2 separate regions of the Homo sapiens genome follow, and region 1 is linked to region 2. Evidence: fine-mapped expression QTL. A gene starts in region 2. The other region holds a variant in brackets. All regions are shown on one strand. Distances are from middle to middle. Region 1 overlaps BUB1B-PAK6 (BUB1B-PAK6 readthrough). Region 2 holds the start of PAK6 (p21 (RAC1) activated kinase 6).

Region 1 (15,572 bases), 28 kb before region 2:
TCAAGGCTCTCAGCATTCAGATGCTATAGCTCTGTGGAAGGGGCAGAGGATTGGCATCAGTGATCCAGATCTGGCTCTATCCGTGATCTCAGGCAAGTCACAGTTTTCTCTAGGCCTCAGTTTTCTCATCTGTAAAATGGGCTAGTGATAAAGTATGCTTGCCCTGTCTGCCACATAGGGCTTTTGAGATTTTAAAAACAGGTCGCTGGGCGCAGTGGCTCAAGCCTGTAATCCCAGCACTTTGGGAGGCCAAGTTGGGCAGATTACGAGGTCAGGAGTTCGTAGACCAGCCTGACCAACATGGCGAAACCCTGTCTCTACTAAAAATACAAAAATTAGTTGAGCATGGTGGCACGTGCCTGTAATCCCAGCTACTCAGGAGGCTGAGGCAGGAGAATTGCTTGAACCCAGGAGGCGGAGGTTGCAGTGAGCTGAGATCGCACCACTGCATTCCAGCCTGAGCAACAGAGAGAGACTCCATCTCCAAAAAAAAAAAAAAAAAAAAAACCAACAACAACAGAAACAAACAAGTCAAGGATGAGGAAGTACTCTGAAAAATAGAAAATAAAGTGAGACCTGAAAAGGAAGATTTCTTTGTTGCTCTAGGCCTTAAGAGTCTAAAGCAAGGGCTTATCTTGGTTCATTTTGAGCCAGTATCTTGGGATGAGGCTGAGTCTTGGGCAGAAGGCTACATCCTCTGAGGAATTAGCCAACTGGAGATCTTTATATGCTAATTTTGGGGTTAGCGGTGCGGGCTCCAAGGACCAGTTGTCTTGGAAGATGTTTCCTGTTGGTCCTCCCATCCAGCTTTGTGTTGGGGCCACAGAACTCTTGTTTTTTTGCTATTTTAGAGGAGAGGCTTCAGCCCTCTGAGACATTTCTTGTTTTGGCCACCAGATGGCGGTGCCACTTAGCAGCCCCGTGCTGACCTGCCAGCAGGGGGCGTCCACAGTAAGGCCTGCGGGGTTGGGGCCGATTTGGCAAAAAGGGTTACATGTATACACTTCCATGCACTTATACTGGCTTTAAGGGGAACGCTGTGGCTTAGCTGTGTCGGGGTGTGCAACGATGGAGCATGAGCCGACTCGCCGTGATGGACAGGGACATCGAATCATGGTATGGATCTCCCGACACGGGTTAGAAGGGTTTGTGCTCAGTGAAGCTTCTCCGGATCCCTCCCTGGACAGCAGGGATTGCTGGTGTCCTGGCTTTCCCTGCTCATGGGCCCCACTGGGCTTCCGACCAGTGCCTGCCAAGCAGCAACCCTTCTGCCAAGCAGCAACTCTCCTGCCACAGCCGTGGGAGGCGACTTGTCGGAGCGCACATGCGAACTTGTGCGTAGATGCGGCTCCACACCCAGGTGCGGGTTTTGTGTGGGGAAAGAGGAGCCTTTTCCAGGAGCCCAGACCCTGTGGCTTCAGTGGAAGGGAGATGCTGGGAGCCCAGGTTCTGGTCCCCTTGCCTCAGGAGGAATGGGGTCTGCGAGGTCGCACCCTTGTGTGCCAACTGACCTTGTGAGAGTTTTTCAGCTTGGGTGGGGGGCTGTCCCGGAGCCTCTTCATGGCTTGCACTGGGGAGTCACTGAAGTACGGTGGCTCCCCATCTACCATCTCAATCACCATGATGCCCAGAGACCAGATATCCACCTGCAGGAGGAAAATGTCCCTGACCCCATGGCCAGACCCTGGCCCATTGGTAGCTGCGTTCTGGTGGCAGCAGTGGTGGAGGGGGGACAGCTGGCCCCAGCTCTCCTTGGTGGGTCTGTCTCCTTCCTCCCCTGGTCACCTGCCCTGTGGCCAGTTACTGCCTGCATGAGTGACCACTGCCTATAGGGACACAGCTGTCAGTCACTCAGAGAAAGGCCATCATACATAGGAGGCCCGGCCATACCCCATTCTGCCCTTGAGCTGAGGAAAGCACTTGCAGGACTCGTTCCTGGCAGCAAAGTCACTGGGTAAGAGCAGCCCCATCGAAAGGGGGAAGGGTGTTGACTAGGTGGGACTCTGAAAACCAGGGCTGCTTTTGGTGAGCTCACTGGAGGGGCCACAGCAGAAGAGCTGCCAGTTGCCAAGTTGCTTTTGGGAGGTCTGGGGGGTGGAGGGAACGGTTACCTCAGTGGCATACAAAGACCTGGAGATCACTTCAGGAGCCATCCAGTAGGGGGTTCCCACCAGGGACTTCCTCTTAGGGACGTCTTTGCTGATCTGAGCACAGAATCCGAAGTCCGAGAGCTTCACCTGCGGTTGAAAAGGGAGTGAGTGGTGGATCAGGAGGAAGTGGGAGCGTGGCTGTGCCAGGGACAGGATGGGACCTACCCTGCCATCGAGGGTCAGCAGGATGGAGTCACTCTTGATGTCCCGGTGGATGACACCCTGAGCATGCAGGTAGGCCAGGGCCTGCAGCACAGCCTCACACACAGTGGCAATCTGCTCCTCATTCAGCCTGGACAGGAAGGTGGGGCCACCCGATGAAAGAGAACGTTAGCTCTGGCAGGTCGTGGGGTGGCTGAGCAGAGTAGGAGTCCCTGGTGCTAGGCCCCACAGCTCCCAGGCAATCTGTTTGGCAGCACAGTCAGGCCATAGCCCTGGTGAAAACTGGGGCCTGAGCTTTGGCTAGAAGCTATCCTTCTCTTCTCCACTCCCAAGACCCCTGGGTCTCAGTTACCCCAGCAGGCAGGGGAGCCCAGGCATCCCAAGTCTTCTGGGCCACAGGCAGAAGACCACATTGCCCTGGCAGGGCCATGGTGAGGGCAGCCTGCACTCAGGGTCCAGCCCTCCCAGCTGCCCACCTGACTTGGGAGACGATGTCTGTGAGGGCTCCTCCCTGCAGGAACTCCATGAGCACCCACAGCTCCTCGCCCACCAGGTAGCTCTTGTACATCTCCACCACGTTGAAGTGCTGGTAGTCCCGCATGATCACCACCTGGGGGCAGGCGGGGGCCTGAGTGCCAGGCACAGTGCCCAGACGCATGGCCACCCACTGCCCCTGCTCACAGATGTCCAGCCTGGCTGGCTGCTCACTGCCCATCCCCAACGCCCCCGTCTGTGTCCCACCCTGTCCTCCCACCTCGTTGAAGAGCAGCTCCCTGCGCTGCTGCTTCCTGAGGTCCATCATCTTGACGGCCACCTGGCGGCCCGAGTGCTTCTCCCGGGCCAAGCAGACGATGCCGGTGGAGCCCTCGCCAATCTTCACGTAGCTGTCCAGCAGCAGCCGGGGGTCACCCTGGTCCACCACCATCCTGAGCGCAGCCTTGAACTGCTCATGTGTCACAACACCTGTGTCCTCACCAGCCAGGGCACCCTTGGCAACCGTGGGGTCCTGGGGCAGGTACAGGTTGCTGGTGCTGATCTGGGCGTGCCAGGTGCGGGGGGATCCCGCTGGGGAAGACCGGCCTGGAAGCTGGCCTGTGGCCGGGGCTGTGCGGAGGGACTTCTGGGGGCTGCTGGTATCCGAAGTGGTCAGAGGGCTGAAGGTCCCCACCGGCTGGTCCGAGGGCAAGGACTGGGCCTTGGCCACCAGGCTTGGGGGGTTGTCTTTCTGCGGCGGTCGGAAAGAGGAGTTGGGCTGCAGGGACAAAGCAACAGGAAGGGTCAGGGCTGTGGGAGCATTTGGAATAACCTTCCCGGAGGCAGGGGCTGGCCGCCGTGACCTCTGGACTCTGGCAGGGTCAGGCGGGGTATCAGATCAAACTAGGGAGGTGCTCTGAGCAAAGATTTTCAGACAGAGCTGAAGCCCAGTCACAGTCCTGTGCCAGCAGTCCCCCGCAGGGCACCAGGCTGGGCAGGCCCAAGACAGCTCCTTACACTCGCTCTGCTGCACCTGGGAAGACAGAGAAGGCCAGCTCCCCGCCGGGTCCTGCGCTGGGTATTTCTTCCTGGGCGATTGACAGCTAGACCCCAGGGAGGCTGCCGTGAGGCAGACTCTTCCTCTGAGCTCAGAGGCTGCTTGAAGAATCTGGGTCAGAGGCATTCTTCACTCCCAAGGCTCCCCCACCCCAGGACCCATGGGGGCAGAAGAGGCCTGGCAGTGGGGTGGGGAGCAGTGGGCAACTGTGTCTCCACTCCCTGAACCAAGGCAGGGGAGCCACACCTGGGGCCCGATAGCCCTGCCTGTGCCTGCAGCAGGGAGTTTGCAAATCTGTGCTGGGAGGTTATGTCCCTGACAGAGGACCACAGAGGTGTGTCACCATCTGGGGGGTTCTCAGGTGTCTCCCCTGGGCTGGGAATCTGGTGCCAGAGAGATCTGGAGTTAGGAGGGTAGGTCCAGCCAAACCCAAGCCTTGAGGCCAGGGATGGGGAGATGTCTTAAGGACCCCCTAAAGGAGTCCTTCCACTTCCTCCCTGGCATGAAACTCCTGGCTAAGGAGCCCCCGGGAGGGAGGAGAAGGTAGGGGGCCTATCCTCATTGGCTCTGGCAGGGAGGGAGGAAGGGAAGGTGGAGCTGAGGGGCAGCCTGGGCCCCCAGTGAGCCCTGCTCAGGCCCAGCCCTGGAAGCCTGCGAGGCTTCTTGCTTTTCCGAGCCCAAGCCCTTCTGCTCTTTCTGACAGGAAAGGTGCCCGCCCATCTTTGGGTTCTCCCCAAGGAGCGGTGATATGCACCATGACCCCTCCCAGGGATTACGTGTTTTTAAAGGGCACCTGGAGAGGGATGCTTCAGGGGATGCAGAAAAAGCCTTCTAGGAACTTCTCCAAACCCATCATGTAAGCCATTGTCTTAGGTGCCCAGTGGGTCCTGGTCCTGATCCCATAGCTGAAACAACTTACAGGAAATCTCAAGCAGTAAGTTTGGGCTGGGATGCTTGCTCAGGGACCCCAAACCCCAAATCTGGGCCTTGGGCCCCACCAGAGTCTTTTCAGTGTCTTTGGCAACCCTCACTCCCTTCCTTCCCCGACCCCCCGCAGCTTCAGGGCTTCTACTCTCCAGCCAAGTCCCTGGCCTGCTTAGGGTGGAATAGGCACTCCTGCTGGCCGACAGCCATGCTGGGGCAGACTTCTGCCACCCCCACACCTGCCTGCCCACCCGAGTGTGTGCTTGACCTTCACAGGAAAGAAGCTAGCAATCCTCCCAGGACTGCCTGGACTCACTCCATCCCTGATGAGTACATTTGGACAGTAAACATTCTCCCATGTCCTCGCCAGCACCTGACTGTCACCATCCACTGTGACACTGTGACACTGTCACCATCCACTGTGTAGTGGAGCAGTGGGACCCCTGGACTGGGCTGTCAGGACCTGGGGCCCAGCCCTGGGCTGCTCTGCCCTGTGATGAGCCTTAGGCAAGTCATCCTCTCTGAGCCTGTCTCCACTACAATGCAGGGACGTGTGCAGAGATCTGGGGAGCTAGAGAAACCGCAGACTTCCCGCCTCAGAGCCTGATTCGGTGGGAGCCTAGAGCAGAGACTGCATTTGAACAAGGTCCCTGGGTCCTAGGAGGCCCATGGAACATACTTTGAGAAACTCTGCATAAGTGGGCAGTATGATCTTACGGCCTCAGGGAGCCTCTGGGAGGGCTGTGAGGGGGGTGGAGGGCGCATGGCCATGACTGAGGCTGTGATACCAGGTCCTGGGAACAGAGGTTCCATGAGACGTCACCAGGCAGGGACAGGGAGGGAAGTGGGGCAGGGCTCACTGCATCACACAGTCAACCTGTAGAAAGGCTCGGGGCTCTAAGGAAGCTGCCTGCTGGCCTGAGTGTGGACTTAACTCAGAAAACATGCTCTCCAGGCACCCATCCAGGTGGGTCGGGGCAGAAGCTTGGGGACCACCTAAAGCTCCTCCTGAGGTGGCTCTGATGACCTCTCATCCTGAAGCTCCTAAGAAAGGCTGTAAAATGAGATCATTCCCCTCCTGGCCTTGAGGGCTTCTGCATGGGCCAGCTCTACTCTGAGGATGTGTGGGTACCACGTGGACAGGCTGAGGTAGGGGTTTCTTCCCTGTCTCCACAGGCCAGGTCCCTGTGCTGCTGCTGCTGCTGCAGGTGCTGGCTGGGCTCAGGGCGGAGCCTGCGTCTGGAGGCTGGGGGAGGGATGGCCCAGCCAGGAGCCCAGCACAAGCAGAGTCTGGGACATAGGCTGGGGAGTCTGGGGAGCTGGCTTGGTCTTCAGCCTGGCAAGGTCTGGTCTCTAGCATCCTTTCGTTGGCTTCACTGCCTGTCTCCACAGGGAGGGAGCTTTTATCAATGTAATCACAAGCAAGGACCAGATGAAACTTGTGAGGCCACACAAGAAAGGGAAAGGGGGACACGACAACAGAATTAATTAATTGTTACAGGCTCTGGATTAATTCTGAAGTTACTCATGTGATAGACCTCTTGGGAAGAAAGCCACTAGAAGAGTCATGCATACATTTACAGCAATGCCTCATTTCCCGCCCTGAGCCATGGCTCCCCAGCTGTGGGCTTAGGGGGCTATACCTTAAGTATCCTAAAGGGGAGAGGCCATGGCATAATATTTTTAAAAATAATAAAGCCGGCCTGGCATGGTGGCTCAGGTGCCTGTAATCCCAGCACTTTGGGAGGCCAAGGCAGGTGGATCACTTGAGGTCAGGAGTTCAAGACCAGCCTGGGCAACATGGTGAAACCCCATCTCTTCTAAAAATACAAAAATTAGTTGGGTATGGTGGAGCGTGCCTGTAATCCCAGCTACTTGGGAGGCTAAGGTGGGAGGATCACTTGAACCCAGGAGGTGGAGGTTGCAGTGAGCCAAGATTGTGCCACTGCACTCCAGCCTGGGCGAAAGAGGGAGACGCCATCTCAAATACTACTAATAAAGCCATTTATTGAGGGCTTACCACTTTGACAAGTGCCTTCAACGTACTATCTCATGTAATCCTCATAACCCTGTGGGTTGTTTGGTTGTCCTGTAGGCACTGGAACCCGCAGGACGCCCGTGGCTGCTGACTCCCATGCTGCAATCCCACTGGTGCCATGTATCCTTGACATATATCGGAGTACACGGTAGGTGCTTAACCAATGTTTGCCCTTCTGACTCTAAGTGGAACATGTCTAATCCCTGCAAGCTCCTAAAAAACTGTCTTGCCTCTTTGGTCTCTGTGCCCCCACGCCCTGTCTTCCTGATCTCTTTAGCTAGAGTGACTCCAGGCCTCACTGCCTGGGGCTAGGTACAGGAGCCCTGGAGTCTATACTCAGACCCTCCTGCAGCCATGCCTGGCACACTGCATGGCCTCTGTGGCCTAACTGCTGTTATGGAAGCTGCTGCAAGTGTCCAGAGTCAGCCCCAGTGCCAAGGGCTGCTGGCTTGATCTGGGGACTCCTGGGGTAGGTGGTGGTGGAGGAGGAGGAGGAAGGCTGATGCTCCCCATCTGTTATTGAATTTGCTTAAGGCAGTGGTTCTTAATGGGTGTGCTCGAGTGACATTTGGCAGTGTCTGGAGGCATTTTTGGTTATTCCAACCGAGGGTACCACCAACTTCTAGTGAGTAGAGGCCAGGGAGGCTGCTACAGTGCAAGGAGAGCCCACCACAAAGGATGGACTGACCTGAGCGCCTGCAGTGAGGACGCTGAGAAGCCCCGGCCCGGAGCAGCTCGGGGGGTCTCAGCTTGCCATTGAGAGGCTTGGCTTCAGAGTAGAAATCTTGAAAGATGTGTCTGAGTTGCCCAGAAGGAAACCACTCCCCTGGATTTGGAAGTATGGTGTTGCTGAGCTCGAGATAACTACCGCCTGCTCCCACAAGTATGGGGGACATCCCGGCATACCCAGCAGCAGTGGCCCATGGTGAGTACTCAGTACATTGTGCAGGGATGGACAGGCCTCTCCCCCTGCTGTGGGGTGCTGGCAGGAGCCCAGAAAGATGCAAATGAGTGCCCAGCCCAGTGTTGACAACCCCTTTCTCCAAATCCCTGAGGCCTCGCAGCAGGACTCCTGAGAGACAGAGGGAGGTCAAGCTCCGAATCTCACCTTCCCAGCAGGGTGCACTGTCCTGATCTTACGTTGGTTTTCTGGCTGAGTCTCCCCAGGGGCACAGCCTTCCAGACACCCTGCAGCTCACAGATGCTCGTGTTCCTCTCACAGATACATCAAGCCACAACCCATGGGGATCCCAACCCACTGTCCTTTAACCTAGTAGGGGACTAGAGTGCACAAAGCTCAGAACTTTCTCTTTTTTTTTTGAGACGGAGTCTCGCTCTGTCTGTCCCCCAGGCTGGAGTGCAGTGGTGCGATCTCAGCTCACGGCAAGCTCTGCCTCCCGGGTTCACGCCATTCTCCTGCCTCAGCCTCCTGAGTAGCTTGGACTACAGGCGCCCGCCACCGCGCCCGGCTAATTTTTTTTGTATTTTTAGTAGAGACGGGGTTTCACCGTGTTAGCGAGGATGGTCTCGATCTCCTGACCTCGTGACCCATCCACCTTGGCCTCCCAAAGTGCTGGGACTACAGACGTGAGCCACCACGCGCGGCCGCCCAGAACTTTCTCTGAGTACCTCAGCTGGCAGGCAGTGACCCAGAGAGGTTGTAGTCCGGGTCATCCCCAAACCCACACCCTGTGCAGGCTGGGCCACACTCACCCCACCGATGACAGGGGAGTACCCAGGCTTGTCTTAAAGCCCTCCCAGGAGGGAGGGGAGGCTCCATTACCCATGCCACTGTCAGCAGCCGTTTCTTAGGACTGCCTTTGACCCTCCCAGGAAGGAGCTAAAGAACAAGTGGCTGCTGTGCTTGTAAAGCCTTCATACGCAAGAGTCATGAGCCAAGAGGGCCCGGGCCGGACAGGCAGCCCCAGAGCACTCCCCACCTTCCTTCTCTGACTCACTCTCCATCATGCCTGGGGGTG[A/T]CTCACCCTCTCTCTATCAGTCTCCTCCTCTGCCAAATGGGAAAAGAGGTTACTGTCACTATCAACAGGATGCTGGAGGGCCTGGAAGAAGCAAAAAGGTGCGCTCCACTCTGCCTGCCAAGAAATGTCACCACGGGGGCTCCCTTCACCCTTTCCTTTCTCACAAGAAAAATGTGCGTCTGAAGCAGTCACACATGCCACAAGTCGGCCTCCTGCTGCCCCTGGACTAGGCAAATCCAGCTTTTCCTATGGCCACACACTTGGGAACAAATACTGACAGAAATGGGAAACAACACAACAGCCACAGAGAAAAGAAGGAAAGGAAGGGAGGGAAGGAGGAGGCGAGCCACCCTCCTTAGAGAAGAGGTTACCGTGCACATTTCTGCCGCCTTAGGCGGAAGCAGTCCAGGGAGCCTCTTTGCCAGTCCTCCAAGGGGAAGGCTAGGCAAGGCCTGTGTCCCTACACCCACTCCCCAGTGGACACCTGCAGGCCAGGCTCCTGACTTACCTTGCTCTGTGGTGGAGGGCCTGGCTTGCTGCTGCTTGGAGGGGCTGTGGCAGCAGTGGACAGGAACATGCTTCGGAATAGCCTGCGCTTCAGGCTGCTCTCCCGGGTCTTAGGGCTAGGGCTGCCTTCCCCACCTGGCCTGCCTGTGGCTGAGCCCACCAGGCAGGACTGTGGCCGGGCCTCCTCAGAGCCATGCTTGGCAGCCTTCATTCCATGCCTATTGGTGCCCGTGGGGGGCGAGGCTCCTGGTGGGGAGCTCTGCAGGCAGGCACCCAGCTGCAGACAGCGCTGCGAGGCACCCTGAAACTCGGCGGGGCCCAGGGACTGTGCCTTTGCAGCCAGCCCATTGGGCAGGACCCGTGGGCTCTGTGGCTCGGGCCACGGCATCTGCTTGTGGCCTGCTGGTGTGCCCCCGTTGCAGCTGAGGTAGAGGCCGTGGGGGTCAGTGCGCTCAGACTGGGGGCTCTGGAGGTACATGTCTGGGTCGGTGGCCCAGTGCTCATCCCCCAGCAGCCCCAGGGACTGTGCCCGCCGCCGGCTGGTGGGGCTGCGGCCACGCAGGGTGTTGGAGCTGATGACTGACAACTTCTGGATGTCGTTGAGCAGCCCCGAGATGTAGCCATCCACAGGCATCGCGCTGCCCCGCACCACTGTCTGTAGGGGGAAGAGAAAAGAGTGTGTGGGAGCTGCCCAATTGTGGCAGGGAGGGGTGGCTGGGAGATCAGGGTCAGAGAATGTCCCTGGGGGCCCTGGGGAGGACCACCTAAGGACCTTCCCTGCTGTGTCATCCACCCATTAATTTTTCCATAATTTATCAGGGCCCACCGTGGGTCCCGCCTGTGCTGGATGCAGGGATGCGGGGAGAAGGCCCAGCGTCAGCAGAGCAGATGGTGAGTGCCATGGGGCTGCATCCAGCATGCCCAGGGGTGTGGTCGGCTGGGCCAGGGAGCTGGAGCTCAGGGGGCGGGGCTCCATTCTCTAGCTCCACGGGTGGCTGGGAGAGATGTGCCCAGCCCTCTGAGGAAGAGACACCAGGCCGGGGGCTCCTCCACACACACTGGCTTCGCAGCCTCCAAACCCTGATAGGGCCCCTGACCCCACCTTCTACCAGGCTCTTGGGTCTACTAGTCGTGACCCTCACAACTAAAATTCTCCTGGTCTGGGAGAGCCCTCAGTCCCTATGGGGCTGCAGGTCCAAATATTGAATGGGACACGTCCTAAAAGACTATTCGTTGTCATCTGAAATACAAATGCAATTGAGCATCTCACATTTTCATGTGCTGAATCTGGCAACCCCACCACCCTGCAGAGAGGGTCTCCCCAGCCTCCTTCGCCCTGGCTTACCCAGGGAGAGAATGGCAGGCTGACAGGCAGGGAGTTAAAACAGCTGATTAACTGATAGCTGTGAAGTAGGTGGTTCCTCCAGGGGCCTTTCTGAGGTTTAGCCAGGCATGGTTGTCTGAGTACTGGGAGAGGCTGAACCTCATCCCTGCCGGCCCCTCTTACCTTCATGGGCTGGAGCTGCACCCGTGTGATTCGCGAAGGGTCCACCACGGGCTTGGGGCGCCGCAGTGTGTCCAGGATGTTCTGCCATTGTGGGGGGAGGCCCACAAACTTGCCTTCTTTGGGGTCGAAGGAGGTGTGGACACGGTGCTGGAAGTTCTGTGGCGCTGAGATCTCAGGGCGTTTCTTCTTTTTCTTGCGGAACATGGTGCCTGTAAGTGCAGAGTAAGGTTGAGCTCCCTCCCGGGAAAGAGGGGTGGCTGCAGCAGGGCCTGGGGCACCAGGTTCAGGGCTCCCTCCCCTCCCCCAGCACAGCTCCCCTAGAAGCCTAGGGCTTCCCTCCACCTCCATCTCTGCTTCCTCAGGGAAATGGCTGGCTCCCAGCAGAACAGTCCCAGAAACAACAAACGTGCCATAAATAAGCCAGTGCAGACTATAAACAAGGAAAAGAGGTGTCTTCTTGCCTGTGCCAAGTCCCCTATGGAGCAGGCAGACTCTGGGGGTGTGTTTTTATAAAATCCAAAGCCCATTACAAGTATCATTCCACTGTCTGTCAACGAATTTTAAAAATGGGGAAAGAGGGAGGAAAGTTAGCAAGCTTGTTTTATGAAACGAGTATGACCTTGATTCTTAAAACCAGATAAGGAGAGTGCAAGAAAAGGAAAATTTGACTCAATATCATTTAGGAACGTAACTATGAAAATCTTAAAACTATCGAATTGAATCCAACAGTATATTAAAGTTATTTTTTTGTTGGCTTTTTTTTTTTATTACAACTCAGCTTTGTCCCAGGATGGTTGAACCTGTTAATATGATACGTTAATAAAAAGCCAACCAGCTGATCACAGACATGCTGCCCGGTGTGGGACTATTATGTATCAGGGAGCCCCCAAAGGGCCTTCATGGTTACCATGTGCTTTACCTCAATTCCAGAAAGGCCCTGAGCCAAGAGGATAGCCTGGGGTGGGTGAGGGGCAGCTAACTTAGGGGTAAAGCTCTCCAGAGAAGGCAGAGAGCACCACCTCCCCTTGACACTCTTCTCTCTGGTATTGGAGCTCTATGTAAAACATCACCTGGGCCGGGCATGGTGGTTCATGCCTGTAATCCTAGTACTCTGGGAGGCCGAGGCGGGTGGATCACCTGAGGTCAGGAGTTTGAGACCAGCTTGGCCAACATGGTGAAAACCTGTCTTGACTAAAAATACAAAGAAATTAGCCGGGCCTGGTGGCACGTGCCTGTAGTCCCGGATACCCATGGGGTTGAGGGAGGAGAATCGCTTGAACCCAGGAGGCTGAGGCTGCAGTGAGCTGAGATTGCCCCACTGCACTCCAGCCTGGGCAACAGAATGAGACTCTGTCTCAAAAAACAAACAATAAAACACTTAACCTGCAATCAAGCCTGTGTCCCGTGCCTTGCTGATTCTGGCTTTGCCTAAGGTCGTGCTGAGCTGCATACACAGAAGTGACACAGGCTTGCAATGGATAGCATGGGTAGATCTGAGAGTGGGGAACTGGGGGCCTGGGAAGGGGAGGGACACTTCCAAAGGGTTGCTCTAGTTTCGCCTTCAGGGGATCCCGGACCTGGGATCACATGTTGATGGCAGACAGGGCCAGGGCTGCCTCTTGAATGCTTTTGGATCTGAAGAGGCTCAGAACAGCTCACTGGGTTCTTATGTATCTGAAAAGGTCACTTCCAGGCTTCAAGAAACTGAAACATGATTCTTGAACTGAAAGCTTGGATTACTCATCCGCCCGAAGATCTGGAGTGCAGGGCCGTCATGTTCTCTTTTGGCTCTTGCTATGGAAACAGCATTTTCCTAGTCATTTTGGCAGGTTCTGAAGGAGGTCGCAGATCTGGGAGGCAGCTGGCAGAAAGGCAGGGACCCTGGACAGCCAGTGGTTCCCCACTAGGAATTCACCATGCGTGACTCAATCAGAGCCCACGTCACATCTCAATGTCAGCCATGCTTCTGGGTCTTGAGGTTCGGGATCCACCGAACACCCCCTAGAGGTAGAGCCACATGTACAGGACCCTTACAGACCAAGCCCTTTGGAATAAAACAACCTGTGTGAGTTGCAGATGAGTTGTAGGGAGTCTCCCACTAATAATTTGGAGAGATTTTGAACAAATAACTGAAATGATCTGAGCCAGGGGGGTTAATGAAAGACAGCTCATAGGGTTTAGGGTGTGTGAAGTAAGCAGAGTCCCCATACATGACGGTTGTTTCTCTTGTGATGTCACCTCTCTTTGAATCCCTGTCTTGAAGCTCAGGCCCTCCAGACACTGGCACTTGGGCAGATACAAGTCTGGGAGTAACACCAAACCACTTTCTGCTCAGACTTACCAGTCAAAGGGGTCATGCCTGATGTCAGGGGTCTGGGACCTGGGGACCTCGCCATATATACATCATGGTTTGGTAAAATTTGTCCTCCTCCTTTTGGCCTTTGCCTTTTTTGTTGTTGTTTGTTGTTGTTGTTGTTGTTTTTGAGAAGGAGTCTTGCCGCCCTGTCGCCCAGACTGGAGTGTAGTGGCACCATCTGGGCTCACTGCAACCTCCACCTCCCGGGTTCAAGTGATTCTCTTGCCTCAGCCTCCTGAATAGCTGAGATTACAGGCACCCACCAACATACCCGGCTAATTTTTGTATTTTTAGTAGAGACGGGATTTCACCATGTTGGCCAGGCTGGTCTCGAACTTCTGACTTCAAATGATCCACCTGCCTTGGTCTCCCAAAGTGCTGGGATTACAGCCTTTGCCTTTTGCTACAGAAGAGTCTTTATTCAGCAGGTCTATTCCCCCAGTCCCTTGGATAGACCTGCTATCCCTGGATTAGTTGAGCTGCCTGTTTCGCCCTCCTCCCTAGCTCTGTGAAATCTTCTGGAGGTGCAGGGACACAGACTGCAGCTGAAGAAGAGCTGGTGAATCCGCCCCCCACCACCCACCCCAGAACAGCCCTCTCCCCAACTCCCCTGCCCCACCCAAGCGCTCAGCTTTTGCTGTGGGGATGCACAGGGAGAGCATCTTTAGCAAATGGTCTCTGACTCTGGGAGCCTCTCTTGAGTCCATTCTAATAGTGAGCCATTCCGGAACAAGTTCTTCCCAGAGGCAGCAGGGAGGCTGGAGAAGAAAGAAGGACAGCCCAGAGGGTGTCCCAGGGCCAGGAGTGGTGATGGTGAGGGTGGGAGTTGGCAGAAGCAATCAGCTGAGCTCAGGCTTTGGGGGCTAGGGAGTAGAGCTTTAGAAACCAGAGGCCATCACTTAGGTCTGGAAAATCAACCAATCAACCACCTAAAGGGAGGCAGCTAGGACTCATCTGAAATGTGGTGAGGCCAACACTGTGTGGGACAACATAACTGTGTAAGTAGAAAATGCGGGAGAATCTACATAAAACTGGGATTAAGGGAGTGAATTTAGAAGGTCCCTGATTCAAGGTCAATATATATATATATATTTTTTGAGATGGAGTCTCGCTGTCTTGCCCGGGCTGGAGTGCAGTGGTGTGATCTCAGCTCACTGCAATCTCTGCCTCCCGGGTTCAAGTGATTCTCCTGCCTTAGCCTACTGAGTAGCTGGGACTACAGGCGCACGCCATCACGCCCAGCTAATTTTTGTATTTTTAGTAGAGATGGGGTTTCACCATGTTGGCCAGGATGGTCTCGATCTCTTGACTTCATGATCCACCCGCCTCAGCCTCCCAAAGTGCTGGGATTACAGGCATGAGCCACCGTGCCCAGGCTCAAGGTCAATATTTTAAAAAATCAACTGGATTTCTACATACCAGTAACAACATGAAATTTTTAAAAAGGGCCAGGCGCGGTGGCTCACGCCTGTAATCCCAGCACTTTGGGAGGCCGAGGTGGGCGAATCACGAGGTCAGGAGATAGAGATCATCCTGGCTAACACGGTGAAACCCCGTCTCTACTAAAACTACAAAACATTAGCCGGGTGTGGTGGTGGGCACCTGTAGTCCCAGCTACTCAGGAGGCTGAGGCAGGAGAATGGCGTGAACCTGGGAGGCGGAGCTTGCAGTGAGCTGAGATCAGGCCACTGCATTCCAGCCTGGGCGACAGAGCGAGACTCTGTCTCAAAAAAAAAAATGAAATTTTTAAAAAGATATCATTTTACATTAAAAATACAAAATATCTAGAATAAATCTAACAAAAAAATACAAAGTCCTTATATTGGAAAATACAAAACATTATTAAAGATATTAAAGAATGTTCATAGATGAGAAGGTTCAATACTGTAAAGATGTCAATTATTCCCAAGTTAACCTGCAGATTAATTTAAATCTCAAACAAAATCCCAGCATATTTCCTTTGGTAGAAATTGATGAACTGATTCTAAAATGTATACAGAAATATAAAGAACCAGGAATAGCCAAGACAATCTTAATGAACGAAGTTGGAGGATTGTACTAAATAGATATTAAGATTTATTAGAAAGCTACAATAATTAATTTAGTATGGAATTGGCAAATAGGCAATAGGCAAATAGGCAAAAATTGGCAAATTTAGTACGGAATTGACAAATAGACCAATGGAACAGAAGAGAGAATCCAAAAATAGACCCACTCTTATGAGGTCATTTGATTAATGACAAAGGTGACCCTGCAACATGCTGGGGGAATGGATGATGTTTTTAATAAATGTAGCTGAAGTAATTTGATATCTGCATGGAAAAAAAATAAACCCGGAAGAATGAGCTCATATCATACTCCAAAATTATGCAGACAGATCACAAACCTCAATGTGAAAGGTAAAATAATAAAGCTGGT
Region 2 (15,572 bases):
GAATAATGAAGTCTAGAGCATTGGGGTACAGGGCTATGGAGGAGCAGCACCCCCAAACGGGGTGAAAGGTTCTTAACCCTCAGCCCTCACAGCTGCAGAAGGGACCAAGGAGAAAGCTCCCCTCCCCGACCCTGGGCATGCACACTGGAGCTTGGTTTGATGTGCCATGGAGTAGAATCCCAGGATTCGTCCAGAAAACAAGGCTACCACTTGCTACTAAATCAACCCAACAGGTCTGTTCACCCCGGGTTCCGGAAAGAGAGCCCAGCGCCAGGGGGTAGCACTGTCTAGGGCCTGGTTAGGTGTTTTGGAAAAGTCCATGGGTCCCCGCCCGGCTGCTGTACAGATGTGCCCTGCTGATACCCTGGGCCTCAGCAGAACCTCGAGCCTCTCTCTCTCTGCCTGCCTTTCCCTCAGGTTCTGCATCTGTACTAGGCTTCCTGTGCCAACGAGAATATATAAAACCATCCTCCCCAAACACAAGCTGACACTGGGGGCTAAACCTGCCTGACAGTCCCAAGGAGCCTGGTGACCTGGGAGGAGCTCCTCAGATGCAGGGACCATTGCAGGCTGCGGCGCCCGTCCCAGGTGCATCCTGGGCTACCCTGGGAAGGGCTGGGGAACAGCAAGAGCCAGATCTGTGGTAAGGACACTCATTTTAGAGACGTGATGGATTCATTTAATATCTTTTCGCTACAATTGCTTTGCAGTGCCTGCTCTTAATGGCCTCCAAAGTTCCATCCAAATATCTTTTGCTGGCAGTTTAGCTCTCTGGCTGGCATTTTTGCTGGCAGAACTAACAGCTGGATGCCTCCTTGAATGGGAAACTTTCATTGTCTTGTCTTCTCTCTTCTGAGTTTCCAGTGACTGCCCCAGGTCTGAGGCTGGAGCAGGGCTCTGACTGTGACACCCCTGCGTGGAGCCCAGTGGCTGACTTTCAGGAAGGACAGGTGAGTGTGGGGGAGTGGAGGCCTGTGCCTGACTAGGTGAGGGCCCAGGCCCAAGCTCCAAGGAAGAAAAGGGGATGTGAGGAAGCAGGGTATTTGTTGCCTGAGGCCCACCTCCAACACTTTGGGCAGAACACCTTAGCTCCAGATGCACAAAACTCACAGGCTCTGGGCTGTGCAGCCCCCTGGGAACACTAACTAGCTGGCCTCAGAGTCTGTGGACCTCTGCATGTGCCCTGGGTCAGAAGGCATGACCTGTCTAACTGCCACATGGCGTGTCTGTGCCATGCTGCCATCCTTCTCAGGGTCCTCTCTTCCCTAGCATTCTGGCACACACCGGACAGAACCCCTTGACTGCTGCAGGGGTGGTTGGCCTGCTGGGACATGTATTTGAACGCTGACATAGCAGGGTTCTGGTAACACCACTGCCACACCCTCGTCAGTGGCTGGTACAACAGCCTCTGCTAGGATGATGGACCTCATCATCCATGAGGCAGCCCCTCCTCCTGTCCTGACCACCCTCTCCTCGACAGGAGCCCTGAATGCCTGCTCACTGGCGGCCTTGCATTCTTCCCCCGGGGCTGGCTCCATCCCTCCCCAGGAGCTGAGACCTCTACTTCTCCCCACCTTTCTGGATCCCAGACACATCATCAGCAAGATCCACTCTAGTGGAATAGAAAAAGTCTTCTTGTCTAGCTTGGGCCTGGTGACCGGTGGCAAGTGACAGGCCTCCTGCTTCTGGGAACTGACCTCTGATGGTGGCTATTGGACATGTAAATGTCTGCCTGGGGTCAAAAGTCTACACTAATGAGAAGATCACCTGAAGAACAGGGCCTCCCAGGTGCCTCCCCTACCCTTTGCCCCAGAATCTCCGTTTCATCTCTGGCACTCATCATGACTCCCTTCTTTGGCCTAAGACATGAAGTTACCTGGGACAAAAAGAACTTCAATCAATCAATTTATAAATTAGTTAGATCTCTTCAACAGAGAGTGGCCTGGTCCCCAAGAGTGGCCTGGGTGCTGTGTGCAAAGTTTATCCTCGGGAAGCACTTGACTGACAAGCGTGGGCTGGGCTGTGGTTTCAGGTCTAGCAGAATGCAGGGGGATGGCAGGAGGCACCCAAATAGCACAATAGGAGCAAAGCGGGGACCTGCCCAGCCTCCCAATGTGTCAGGCCAGGCCGCCTCTCCCAAGCCATCAAGTTACCCAGTGGCTGCTGCCTGCTCCTGCATGGGCCCCTTGGTAGCACGGGGGTGGGGGTTCAGCCTGGGTAGCAAGAGTGCTGGGCAGGCAGCTGGGGATCCCTGGGCTGGAAACTGACTCTGCCATTAGTTAGCTGTGTGGCCTCAGGACCCACTTTCCTTCTCTGGACCTCTGTTTCCCGCTCTAAAATTATGGGGGCTGGACGAAACATCCTCCGGGGACTCCCTTTGGCTTGAATGTGCTACAGCAATCTGAGATGGCCAGCTCTTTCCTGGGGCAGCCTTTTCCTCCTCAGAGCTCCTCTTTGCTGATCTGAGACTGTGCTCTGGTGGTGCAGGAGGCTGTGGCATAACTGGTCCCCTCGCTCCCTCCACCCTCTGTGCTTTCTTGCACAATTCCATAAGCTGAAAGAAAGAAAATGGAGGCTAGAGCCTCTCCAGGCCAGGAAGCTGAGCCACAGAACCAGTCCTCCCGGTTTTAAAGTTTTAACTCTGCTGCTGCTGCTGCAGCCTTTAGGAGTCCTGGTCACCAGGCAGGCAGGCAGGCAGCAGGAGGTCTTGGGCAAGGTGACTGGTTTGTTGCTATCTGCACTGAGTTGAGTAGGCTGGTCCCCGCTGCACTGGGATCAGAGATCAAAATACAGCACCAGCTGAACTGAGCTTTCTGAACCTGCTTCCCTGGACACCCAGAGGATCCCTCACCAGGTCCTTGACAGCCTGAAGGACACAGCTCTGCTTCCAGCCCCTTAGCAAGAGGCCCAAAGAGCTGAGTGCATGGAGGCTGTGGGCAGACCAGAGCACAAGAGATTGTTGCCTAGGCAGAGAGACACTGGGATTGGCTGACCGAGGCAGCACTTTTGGGGAATAGGTTGCCACGGAGAATCCACAGGTGTCAAAAAAAGTCATCACTGGCCCTATGTGAATACTTGGGTCTCTGCCCTGCCTGATGTGTCGTGATGAGGTTTTGTAGGAAATGCTGGCCAGCAGAGGTGTCCCTTTGCTGGGGCTGAGGCAGTTGCGGCCTCTCATGTAGTTATGAGGGAACCTGTTTTTTCACATGTGAGTTCCCCCAGCCCAAGAAAGCCTGTCATGCTCTGGGGTTGCCTTGTTTTTCTTAGGTGAATAAGCTTTAGGATTACCTTTCCTAAATTCATAGAACAGATAATCCTTTGTAGAAAAAGCAGGCTGGGTGTGGTGGCTCACATCTGTAATCCCAGCACTTTGGGAGGCTGAGGTCGGCGGATCACCTGAGGTCAGGAGTTCGAGACTAGCCTGGCCAACATAGTGAAACCCCATCTCTACTAAAAATACAAAAATCAGCCGGGCATGGTGGTGGGTGCTTGTAATCCCACCTACTTGGGAGGCTGAGGCAGGAGAATCGCTTGAACCAGGGAGGCGGAGGTTGCAGAGAGCCAAGATCGTGCCACTGCACTCCAGCCTGGGCAACAAGAGCGAAACTCTGTCTCAAAAAAAAAAATAAAAAGAAAAAAAGAGAAAACAAAAGTCTCTGAGATGGAACCTCACGATTACTGGCCTTTTTTTTTTTTTTTTGAGACAGAGTCTTGCTCTGTGGCCAGGCTGGAGTGCAGTGGCACGATCCCAGCTCACTACAACCTCCGCCTCCTGGGTTCAAGCGATTCCCCTGCCTCAGCCTCCCGGGTAGCTGGGACTACAGGCACGCGCCACCACGTCCAGCTAATTTTTTGTATTTTTTAGTAGAGACGGGGTTCACCATGTTGGCCAGGATGGTCTGGATCTCTTGATCTTGTGATCTGCCTACCTCAGCCTCCCAAAGTGCTGGGATTACAGGCGTGAGCCACTGCACCTTGCCCACGATTACTAGGCATTTCTAAGCTACTTGCCAGAGTGATCCAGGAGCCTGCCGTGGCCTTGTCTGGCCCCTCTGCCTGCCACATCACCAAGTGTATGCTTTAGATGGGGCTCAGCAGAACACAGTTCCTCATGCAGTTAGGACCAGCATGTGAAAAAAGCTTCCAGTCCCCAAAAGGAGTAGGGCCAGGGCCACAGCCCGGCTCTCGATCCCTTCACTAGGGGCAGCCCACTTCAAGTCCTCAAGACCTCCAAGTCTAGACCCCAGAAAGAGGAGTCTCAAGTTATTCCTTAGAAAGCCTCAGTGGACAAACAATATGCTATTTGGGAAAAAAATAGACCTGGCATTATTGTTTCTTCCCAGCTTTCCTGGGCATTCTGAGAGCTTTTGTTTCTCCTCAGAGGAGGGTTCTTTCAAAGTCACCTCCTCCGTGAAGCCTTTCCTGATTCCCCCGAACAAGGTATGGTCTCTCCTGGCACTTTGTTCCTCTGACACCAGTTATCATCACGGTGATAATAGTTATCTCTTGCTGAACATGTACGTATGTGCCAGTCATGCCATTCAGAGCATTCACTTATTATCTTATTTAATCCTCTCAACAACCCTAACTCATAGGTACTATAATTATCTCTGTTGGACAGGAGAGGAAATTGAGACCCAGAGACATGAAGTAACTTGCCCGAGTCACCAGGAAGAGGCAGCACCGGGCCTGAGGCTCATGCTGCTGACTTCATGTTAACCAACCACCATCCTGCCTCTTCCCGCCCTGGTCTATCTCCCCGAGCCTTCACCTCCTCCTGCAACTGCAGATAGAAGCTGCTTCTTCCTTTGTTTGTCATTCTCAACTTATCTTTTTTGTCCATCTTTATAAAGTTCTATGTTAAGAACCGTTGCCCAGTATTGGTGTAAATTTATAAATTATCTGGGCTGGATGGGTCATGGCTGCCAACTTCAGCGATGAGTTGGACCCAGAGTTGGCAAAAGGACGAAGCCACCTGGGGGCTGATGGTGGCTTTGTGGCTCCGCTTGTTTCTGGCGCGGTTGGCCCCACGCTCAGCTCAGCTTTCCTTTCCACTGCTCTGCTGCAGGGCTATGAGCATCCCCAGGGCAAGAGCTCTGTCCTGCTTTGTCCACCCCCTCTTCCTGCCACCAGTGCTTGCACCTAGTAGTCAGGCCATGGCTGTCATCTGCTTGGCAGCCTGTGCGCCAGAACAAGGTGCTGCCTGGACCCCACACCCTCCCAGGAAGAGACACGGTCCCCTTTATCTCACATCTCACTCTTCTCGCTTTAGCCCTTCCTGGCCCCTAGGGCTGAGCTCTGGTGGGGTGGAGGGCACCTCCTCAGAAGGGGACAACTTCCCAGGCCCAGGCAGACTGCTCGCCCTGGGCAGGAGGGCCAGCCTTGGCTTCAGCAAGTTCAGAACTCATTCTGCCCTCAGAAGCTTCCATTTGCAATGCTCCTCCCCAACCTGCTGGCTAGTCCACCTCTTTCTACCAAGGAGGCTCCCAGAAATAAGCTCTCTCCTTGAGGCCCGGTAGGTGCAGGCGGCCAGATGCCTCCTGATGAGCTTTACTGGTGTCCTTCCTGCTGCTCAGGTCTCAGGCACTGCTTCCGCAGCCTGGGCCTTCCTGCTCAGGGCGACGAGCGCATCTTACGGGAAGGACTTTCTGCTTCAGTCCACAGGACAGCCTCCCATGAGTCCTTCCTGCCTTCTGCACCCAGGACACTGTGTGCGGTGGGCATCTCTGGGCCATTTGGGTGAGGAATTCAATCTTTCAGTGTCTTAGCCTCTTCCCTGCCCAGTCACCTACGCAGAGGGCCTCTCCCACAGAAGCGGGCTGGCATAAGAAGGCCAGCTGTCTGGAGTCCTCCCTGAGCCCTCAGGACCCCAGGCAGCCTTTTCCTTTCCTGCTCAGCCTGCCCTGGCCCCTACTCTCTGCTCCCTCCTGGCCCAACCTGCTGCCCGCTGCTGGCCTGCTGTCTACCTAGTGCTCGACAGCCTCCGCCCCTCTGACCCCAACTGGGCAGCAGCCCCTGCTCAGCTCTGCATGCATGGAAGACTCCTAGGCACAGAGTCACCTTTTGTGAGGCAGCATGAGATACCCCCACAGCTGGGTCATTCTCCTCATCCAGGAGCCAGGTGTGGGAATTCACTGGCATGAGAGACACTTATGGGTTCCTCCTGACTCTGAGCACATGTGCTCCTCCAGGGCAGGGGACTTTTTGGTCATCCTTAGGAGTTGTGCACAGAGCGGGCTTTCCTTGGCTGGAGACCCCACCCACTGCACCCTCCCTGTGTCTGGCAAGTCCGGGAGGGCCCAGAGCACTCACAAAGCATCAGTTTGTCCTCGGGGCACTGGAGAGGCCGTGCAGTCCCCACACTCCCCCTCTCAGGTGCACAGAGCTTCCATCCAAATCAGCTGCTCCCAGAAGGGCTTGCCTCTGGTGCCGACCCTTCCCTGACCAGGCGCTCTGTCACTAGGGCTCCCAGGTGCCACCTCCAAGCCTGGGCCAGGACAACCGCCAGGGAAGCCTGCCTGCAGAGGGGACTCCTTGCTTGCCCCAAAGGCCTCAACCCCAGCTAGATGAGCTCCCGTGGGGCTGAGTCCCAGGCCCACCAGGCCTGGGGGCCACACGGCTCCTAAGCTCATCCTCTCCTCCTGCAGCCCAGTTCCCACCAGAACCAGCCTCAGGAAGACCCCAGGCAGAACGGCACAAACCTCTTGGTGTACAATGCCAGGGAAAGGATAACTGGAGACCACAAGACGTTAGCCTTGCTTCCCGGTGGGGCCCAGTGCTTTATAAACCCGAGCTCACTGGGCCCGATGTCCCCAAAGCTGACCAGGTCATCCACCCTGCAGCAGGGGTGGGGAGACCAAGGCCTGTGAGGAGTGACCGTGCTTGGCCAGGCAGCTCCCTGAACCTGCCCTGATGCTGAGTTTCAGAGTCAGAATCTGTGCCAGGTCAAACCCAGCCAAAGGGTGTGACTTGGAGCCTGGGACCCAGCAGTGCTCCCTAAATATTTGTGGAATGAATACACAAGGGAAATGTCCCAGAGGTGGTAAAGTGAGAGGGGCCTTGGATAGGGGTGTCCCGGTGGCACTGGCTTGGCCCAGCTGGGGCAGGAAGAGTAGAAACAAGCACCTCTCCCTCTAGCTAGGGAGCCAGAGACCAGCTGGGATTGGACTGTTTCACAATCAATCTGGAAAGAAGGTGGCAGGCCGGGTGGGGAGTGGAGCCCCTTGACCCAGGAACCCACAGCTGTGGAGTTAGCCTCCCTGTCCCAGGTGGGAGGCAGCCTGGACACCTTGGCACCCCCGTCCCTAGCCCAGGAATCCGGAGCACGCAGCGGCAGTGGGGACCTTACCGTGGCTGCTCCTTCTGGGCAGCGGGGTCCTGCGTTCTCCACTGCAGGCTGGTGCTTGTCTCTAGCCCAGGAAGCGGCACTCCCTTCAGGCAAAATAGAAAAAAAAAAAAAAAAAAAAAGGAAAAGAAAACCTCAGTGCTTTTCTCACCCAGCCTCTTCTCTTGAAGGCTCCTGGTTGGTATTGTCCTGCCACTGTGGGCACACAGCCTCCCTCCCTCTGGCAGCTTACTCACTGGTGCCCGCAAAGCTGCCAGCTGTGTGGGGGAGAAGGGACCTCCCCCCTCCTCCTGACACACACTGGGGCATGCCCTGTGGGGACCAGGGGCTTGAGGGTGGCACCCGCTGGGTCCTGATCATGGGGAAGCCGTACCCTGGCCAGCACCCTTCTCACTGAATGTGTCCCTGTGAGCTCAGCAGAGACGCACATGGGTGCTGACTGGCCCTGCATAAGAGAGTGACATGGTTCTTGGTAGGAAGCTGTTTCCTTGGTACCCAGGCCTGCCAGAATGAAGGGGCAGCTGATGGGCTGTCCAGCCCCCCAGTGATGGGCTCTCACCCTGGCCAGCCCCTCCGGACGGCTTCCTACCTGGGCATCTTGCTGTGTCTCTGTCCTGTGCACCCAGACAGGGCCTGGGCCTGCCGGGGCTGGCAGCTGCTCCTCACCCTGCTCAGGCCGTGTGTCTGGCGTCCCCTCTCCCTGACGCCCATCTCAGGGCCTGCGCCCACCCAGCATCAGTTAGGATAAACTCCTGTCAAGCCCCCAGCCAGCTCTCTGCTGGACCCAGCTGCTGTCCCCAGCAGGGGGACGGCACACACACTGGCTTACACACTCTCGCACTCACACACACGTGGGTCCACACCCAACACAGAGCCACCTACCTGCCCAGGCCAGCCTAAGCCAATCCAGCCTCGCTCTCCAAATGCCACTCCGACCCCAGAAGCCACTCCTTTACCGAAACATCCCCGTGGGAGATGAGTTCAGAGCCAGCCCGGGAGGACTCCAGTCAGCTCGGACAAGACTGCCCTTCTGTCCCAACACCTCCAGAGGACACACACAGGCAGCCTGACCACCATATCTGCTATTGCACTCTGCCTGCTGCCACAGCCCCCCGGGCACTTCTGGCCCCCACAGCGTCTTCCATATCTTTAGGGGGTGGCAGCAGACTCACAGCAAGTCCCATCTTCCTGGAGCCCAAGGTAGGGAGGGGAGAGCTAGAAGGGGCGGGACTCAGGTGCAGCTCCAAGTTTCCAGCTCCCAAAATAATCAGATGCAAAGGAGAAGCAAGAACAGCTCGAGGCGGGCGGTGACTCAGTGCTAGTGGGCCGGCTTAGTCACCTGGATGGCTGCTGGCGGCTCCTGGCACATCAGGACGGGAGCAGCGCCCTCCCCCACCTGCCTGGACCGTGGCTGTCTCCAGAGTGTGGCCGCCGAGCCCCGCGCCCAGGGCTGCCTGGCAGGCGAGGCCGCTCCACCCCGCTCCCGCCCATCAGGGCCCAGCGGCCCCGGCTGCGGCGCGCCCCTCCTCCACCGCGCGCCCCGGCTCACTTTGGGATTTCTCCATTAAATCCTCAGGCATCGACCTGCTCGTTTGGGGCGCCGAGCTGCTCCAACGTTGCTTGGCAATTTTGATATCGTCGGGGGTTGCCATGGGGAGGAAGGTGATGTCATTGACACAAAAAACCCACTGAATTTACAAATCAGCTGGGGCTGGAGCTATTTATAAAAACACGTTTTTATCTGCCTTTCTTTGCTGAAGGGGAGGAGGAGGAAGGGCTGCCTGCCGGGCTCAGGGTGAGCCTCCCTGCTGTCCTTCCTACCCTTGCCCTAGAGAAGCCAGACCTCCTTGGCTCACCCCCACCCCCACCCCCCAGAACTTGGAGCTGCGCATTCAGATCTGGCAGGTGCTGGTCTCAGCTGGTTTTGCTTCGAAGGCTGAGAGTGGCACATGGGATGTAAGGCAGGGTGGGTGCTGGCTTCCTGGGCTGGCAGGGACCAGAAACCAGTTACTCAACCGGGTCCCTTTATTTCATTGCCCCTGGTCAGAAACAGAGGCATTTGCTGGTGAGGCAGCTTGAGCTCCTTGATGTGCCCCCCTGCCAGCTCCCCGGAGCGCCAGGTGGAGCCCAGCCTTCCACAGTGCCCTCCCCATCCCTAGCCTCAGTGTCTCCTCCACTGGCTTCTTTTCTTCTCCTAGTGTCCAATCGTGGGCTGCCCAAGCTCCAGGCTTGGTCCCCTGCTCATCTCTCCCCACACTCAGCCACCACTCCATCAAAACACCTTTTTTCTGTGGCTTTGACCATCACCTGGGCAAATGCTTGCCCGAAAACCCATTTTGTGCCTGCCCCACTTCAGGCGCCACCTCTGATGGCCCAGCTCCCACTGCCAGGACCCACTAGCTATTGACAGCCAGAGGGAAGCCTGGGAGTTCTTGCCTCTTCCCGTCCCCCAGTCCCTTATATCCAAGGTGGCACTTGGCTCTACATTTTATTTTTGAAAACTTTCTAACTTTCTTCTGTAGCGAAGCCATGTGGTGTTTGGTTAAAAGTCCAGGCTGTGAGTCTTCAGTCTTCCGCATCTCAGCTCCACTGTTCATCAGTTGAGTGACCTTTGGCATGTTATTGAACCAATTGAACTTCAATTTCCTCATCCATAAAATGGGGATGATTTCACCTGCCTCACAGGGCTGTGGAAATTAAAGGAATAAAGTTTCTGGCACAGAGACTGCTCATCTTGATCCCAATAAACATTAGTTTTTATCCACCCCTCCACTGATGGCAGATTAATCTTCCCAAATCATGACCCTAGGCACCTTCTGTGCAAAGGTCTCAAGCTGCATGCGTAGACATTTTGATTGAACGCAGTGTTAGATGTCATGGCATTAAACATAAGAATTTCAATTTGTGGCCAGGCACAGTGGCTCACGCCTGTAATCCCAGCACTTTGAGAGGCTGAGGCGGGTGGACCATGAGGTCAAGAGATTGAGACCAGCCTGGCCAACATGGTGAAACCTCATTCCACTAAAAATACAAAAATTAGCTGGGCGTGGTGGCACATGCCTGTAATCCCAGCTACTTGGGAGGCTGAGGCAGGAGAATTGCTTGAACCCGGGAGGCGGAGGTTGCAGTGAGCCAAGATTGTGCCACTGCACTTCAGCCTGCGCGACAGAGCGAGACTCTGTCTCAAAAGAAAAAAAAAGTTCAATTTGTGGTCAATATGAAACATTTTCCCTTTAACTAGGTTATCAGTTCCTTTTGGAGAGGAACTCTGTATTTTTCTTCTTTTTGTATCTCAATGTAATTTTGTGTGTAAACTTATAAATAATCCACTTCTGCTCTGTCTCACTAAGGAATGATCCAGGAAATGCAAACTAAAACAAAAGGGATATACCACTCCCTGTCATTATACAGTGAAAAAAAAATGGCAGGTGGGAGAGTGAATTGGTACAGTCTTCTTGGAGGGCAATTTTACAGTCTTGACCAAAATTTCAAAATGTGTATGTACTTGATCCAGCAAATGCACTTCTAGGAATCCAAGTTAAGAAATAGTTGCACATCGGCCTGAAGATATTTGTATAAGAATATTCATGGTAGCACTGTTTGTAACTGCAAAGAATTTGAAGCCACCAAAATGTGCATCAATTGGGCAGATTAATTGGGTGACAGATCTATACAGGATGGTACATCCCCATGCAATGAAGTATCTGCAGCCTTAAAATGAATGAGTTTTGTCAGTCGGTATGTATGTACCAGCTATGTGTGTACCGGTATGCATGTACATACGTATGTATGAGGAAGGATGACCACGATAGTTGAGCAAAAAGACCAGGTTTATCAATGTTAACTTGAAAATGAGATGGCATAATCTCATATAAGTTTTTTTATTTAAAGATATTTCTATATCTGTATGTTTAAACCGCAAACTGTCAATGTGGTTATCCTTGGAAATAGGAGTGGTGGTGAGAGGGGTCTTTCACTTTGGACTTTTTACACTCTTGCATTGTTTCAGTGAACATGTACTGTTGTATTTAAACAATACAAAAGTAAAAATAAAGGAATGTATGTTTTTAAAACTAATAATAGGCCAGACGCAGTGGCACACGCCTGTAATCCCAGCACTTTGGGAGGCCGAGGTGGGTGGATCACCTGACGTCAGGAGTTCGAGACCAGCCTGGCCAACATGGCGAAACCCCGTCTCTACTAAGAATACAAAAATTAGCTGGGTGTGGTGGTGGGCACCTGTAATCTCAGCTACTCAGGAGGCTGAGGCGGAGAATTGCTCGAACCCGGGAGGTGGAGATTGCAGTGAGCAGACTGTGCCATTGCATTCCAGCCTGGGCAACAGAGCGAGACTCAGTCTCAAAACAAACAAACAAACAAACAAACAAACCCTAATAATAGAAAACCAAGAGCTATGAAGAGTACCTAAAACTTGTATATTTGAACATTTTCCTCTGCAAAGTCCACTTTAAGGCAATGTGGGGATATGGAAAACACTTTTTCTTCCTTCATGTCTTTCAAATTTTCAGAAATGTTGTTAGAGGGAGGGGCAACATGAAGATGTGAAGGCACTAAGGCAGGAGATAGAGTTTATTACGTTAAATTCAAAACACTATCATCTTATTCAGATAATAATTACAATGACTCTCTTTAAGAAATGTAACATTTCTAAGTTTCTGCCAGTTTATGAGAAGCAGGCGGAAATTCCTGAAGAAACATCAACAATTTCATAAATCAAGAAAAATCATGTTTTCCAGATTTCTGCTATAGTAGCTAGCAGAGATAATAGCCATTTCATGAAAGGAACTGAGAACTAAACAAACCAGCTCTCCTGAATCTGCATCAGTCAGGTTCTCTGTTAGCCTGGAGAATCAAGTCCAGGACAGAAGCTATGGCAGTCCTGGGGTCTCTAAGCAACAGGACTGACTGCAGTCCCACAGATCACCCCTGCCTGGATGAGAGATGCTCCCACCATGCTGTCCACCTAGTGCATCCTTGCAGGGAAGGAGTCTGATTGGCTGGCTCAGGTCATATGCCTGTCTCTCAGGGAGGGTATCCTGGAGAGAGTGCTTCTGTTATCACACGATATAGGGAGGAAAGTTAGGGTGCTGTTACTAAACCAAAGGGGAATGGGTGCTGGAGACCAAAGGGGACCAGCCAATGATTGCCACAGCATCTTTGCCTCTTTTTCTAATTATTTTCAATTCCTGAGTGTGATAATCAGCCACTGTTGATATTCGATTCCTGTCTTGTGAAACTGATGGCCTGTGCAAACTGAGACCAGTTCCTCTATTCTATCATGTTTCTTGACTTCCTGATTTGATGAGAGGATCTGCAAATTTAGAACCATTTTTTCCACAGGCTGTAGAAAGGGGGGCTCCACCGGCCTGCAAAGGTATGGCTGCTGCTGCAGTGGGCAGGCCAGCAGATGCCTGTGTTTTTGGGCCAGTGGTCGGCCCTGGTGCTTAGCACATGGCAGGTGCTCATGTAAACTTTGTTGAAGGAATGAATGAACATCTTTAGAGGTTCTGTGCTCTAGCCACCCTCCTTAGAATGCGTGAATCCCAGAGCTGAAAGGCACTCTAGGGATATCAGCCCTGTCCCTCCTTCTACAGGTGAGAAAACCACAGCCCCAAGAGATTAGGTGACTCAGCAAAGCCTCAGAGAAAATTAAAGGCAGTCAGGAACTCAGCTGTTCCTCCTCACAGATCCATGAAGTTCCCTTTGCTGCCGACGGCAGCCCCATGCTAGCAGCAAGCTCTGAGTGTGACAGATCTGTAATTTGGACAAAGGCAGTGGTGGTGCTGTCACCACAGACATTTCTGCCTTTGAATCTTGGCTCCCAGGGATTTGCAGCCGCATGAATCAGTCAAGCCAGTGTCCTTACAATTTCTTAAAGTCTTTTACTGTGTTTTTGTTAATGGACATATACAGTACTTGCAGTCTCAAAAGTAATTTGCCTCACCTGCACCGTTTTGGTGAGTTGGATTCAGCTGGAACAACTGTTTATATCAACCTTGTCCCACTGCATGGTTTTAAAGAAACCATCTGGGGATGTGTTTGGAAAGGCCATGTAGCAATGAAGTTCTAAAAATTTTCATAAACTAGTGCTTCCCAAGTTTTCCTAAAGAATAATAAAAACTTTTAGAAACAAAGCCTAGGGCTCCAGTGTGTGGGTAAAATTCCTTTGCTGCCAAATTTTTCTAGATCTTTAGATGCTTCCCCACACTCCACACCCGCTTGTGCTGCATGTACAGAGGGTGCCTCACTCAGGCCTTCTGATGGGCCTGTCTCCACCCACCTACACTAGTCAGCGCCTCTCACCGCAGGGCCAGGAAGGGAGGAACAGATTCTGTTCTCCTTCCTTCCCACCATCCCAAGCCAGGGCAGGTTCCGGAAAGGAAGGGCTTGATTAATGAGCAGGTGTTGCCACTGAAGGCCTGTATATCCCACACTCCAGAGCTGGTCTTACCTTGGCGGCACTCGTCAGCCCTGCGCCTCCGGGAGAGCTAGGCCAGAAGCAGGGGCTCTACCTTCAAGAGATTTTTCTCAAGCTCCTTCCTTGGCAGGGAGGGTACAGAGGAACAGACGCTTCCTGGACATCTGCCTGCTCCCAAAGTATTGGCAGCAAAGTGGGGGATGACTAGGTCAAGTCCTGGGGTCCTCAGTGGGAAGGAAGTTTCAGGGCCTTGTCAGATAGGTCCCTTGCATGCCCTCCCCTGTGGCCCTGCTCCAGCTGTCCTCCTGTGGGCAAGGTGTGTGGAGGATGCTGGCAGGGGCCAAGGGTGGGCACAGTCAGTGACAAGAGACTCAAGTGGCCAACGTCAGCAGACAGCCGGAGAGGGTAGCAGGTGGGCAACATTTGGCAAGGTCTTCCCTTTTTACCCAATCTCTAGTCACAATGCTACACAAGATATGAGGGAGGGGAGCACAGGCCAGAATCTCATCAATATTAGAAGTGGCCCTGGCAAGCGACTCTGCTGTTGACTTCCAGAACAGTTTTCCCTCAGGAAAACGGGTTTTCAGGCTGGGCGTGGTGGCTCGTGCCTTAATCCTGGCACTTTGGGAGGCCAAGGCGGGAGGATTGCTGGAGTCCAGGAATTCGAGACCAGCCTAGGCAACAGTGAGACCTCGTCTCACAAAAAATAAAATTAGCCAGGCATGGTGGTGCACATCTGTAGTCCCATCTACTTGGGAGGTTGAGGCTGCAGTGAGCTGAGATTTGGCCATTGCACTCCAGCCTGGGCAACAGACCTCGTCTCACAAAAAATAAAATTAGCCAGGCATGGTGGTGCACATCTGTAGTCCCATCTACGTGGGAGGTTGAGGCTGCAGTGAGCTGAGATTTGGCCATTGCACTCCAGCCTGGGCAACACAGTGAGACCCTCTCTCTCGAAAAAAAAGAAGAGGGGTTTTCAAGTAAGTGAACAGGGAATGAAATTCTTTTTGCCAGGAACAGGTGTATGGAATTGTGAAAATACTTAAAAGATGGGGGTGGCAGCAGCTGAAAACCCTTTTATGTGAAGTCTCCAACGAGTCAGGCATAGTACATCTAGGCTCTTTCCATCTGTGATTCCATGGAATTCTTAAAACACCATGAAGTAGTTATCATTACCCCAAGTTCTACAGATAAGGAGTCTGAGGCTCAATGCATTTACACATCTTGTCCCAAATCAGGAAGTGGCAACGCCCTGGCTTTCCTTGTGACACCAAATGGCTGAGGCAGGAACTCACTGGGAGCTTTGACTTGACTTGTTTCTGGGTGACTGAACAGATGGCTGAGAGGGAGCCACTCAATCAGGGTCTGGCCACAGCCTGCCGTGACAGGGGCTGTGGGTACTGCTGCAAGGGATGTGCCTCCCTTTGTGCTGGCTGGACGGAGGCCTACACCTCAGTCGGGAGTCAGCTCTCAATCGCCAAAGGCTCAGTGGCTGGCAGCAGGCCCGGCAGAGGCCTAGCCTGTGGATGAGCCTTTCCCGGGAGCAGCCCCTATGGGAGGGGCTGGCCCATCTCTGTCAGAGCAGGAAAAGTGGGTGACTACCAAAGACTGGCTGGGACTACACTAGGGATAGGACCAAAATTAAAATCCTTTTGTCAGTGAAAGCGTCACCCCTGCAGACCCTGACCAGATGACCTTAGGAGTGGGGCTGGTCCAAGGGGCATCTGGGGCTTGACTCTGAGGAGTTAATGGCAAAGTGAGGAGCTGCCCAGAAGCCAGTCTGAGCAG

Evidence for each region.
Region 1: its variant is fine-mapped to the expression of PAK6 in lung (TOPMed, PIP above 0.99). The same link has a PIP of 0.9 or more in subcutaneous fat.

The regions. Positions count from the first base shown.
Region 1 is chr15:40,260,216-40,275,787 of GRCh38, reverse strand. It overlaps BUB1B-PAK6 (BUB1B-PAK6 readthrough), which reads right to left. Exons shown (of 10, transcript NM_001128629.3): 3 at 10,799-11,007; 4 at 9,293-9,946; 5 at 3,067-3,564; 6 at 2,789-2,922; 7 at 2,316-2,442; 8 at 2,112-2,237; 9 at 1,512-1,646. The coding sequence starts at 11,002. PAK6 (p21 (RAC1) activated kinase 6) reads right to left here. Exons shown (of 11, transcript NM_001395430.1): 4 at 10,799-11,007; 5 at 9,293-9,946; 6 at 3,067-3,564; 7 at 2,789-2,922; 8 at 2,316-2,442; 9 at 2,112-2,237; 10 at 1,512-1,646. The coding sequence starts at 11,002. Among named protein-coding and RNA genes, the nearest start is that of PAK6-AS1, 15 kb to the right of the region's middle. RefSeq lists enhancers at 1,351-1,851, 2,573-3,074. The variant A/T (reference allele first, on the strand shown) is at 8,785.
Region 2 is chr15:40,232,458-40,248,029 of GRCh38, reverse strand. It overlaps PAK6 (p21 (RAC1) activated kinase 6), which reads right to left and starts at 8,967. Exons shown (of 11, transcript NM_001395430.1): 1 at 8,228-8,967; 2 at 7,349-7,431. The region is part of intron 1 of BUB1B-PAK6 (BUB1B-PAK6 readthrough); the gene reads right to left. It overlaps LOC107984763 (a long non-coding RNA gene), which reads left to right and starts at 8,329. Exons shown (of 3, transcript XR_001751506.2): 1 at 8,329-8,545. RefSeq lists enhancers at 2,381-2,882, 5,207-5,706.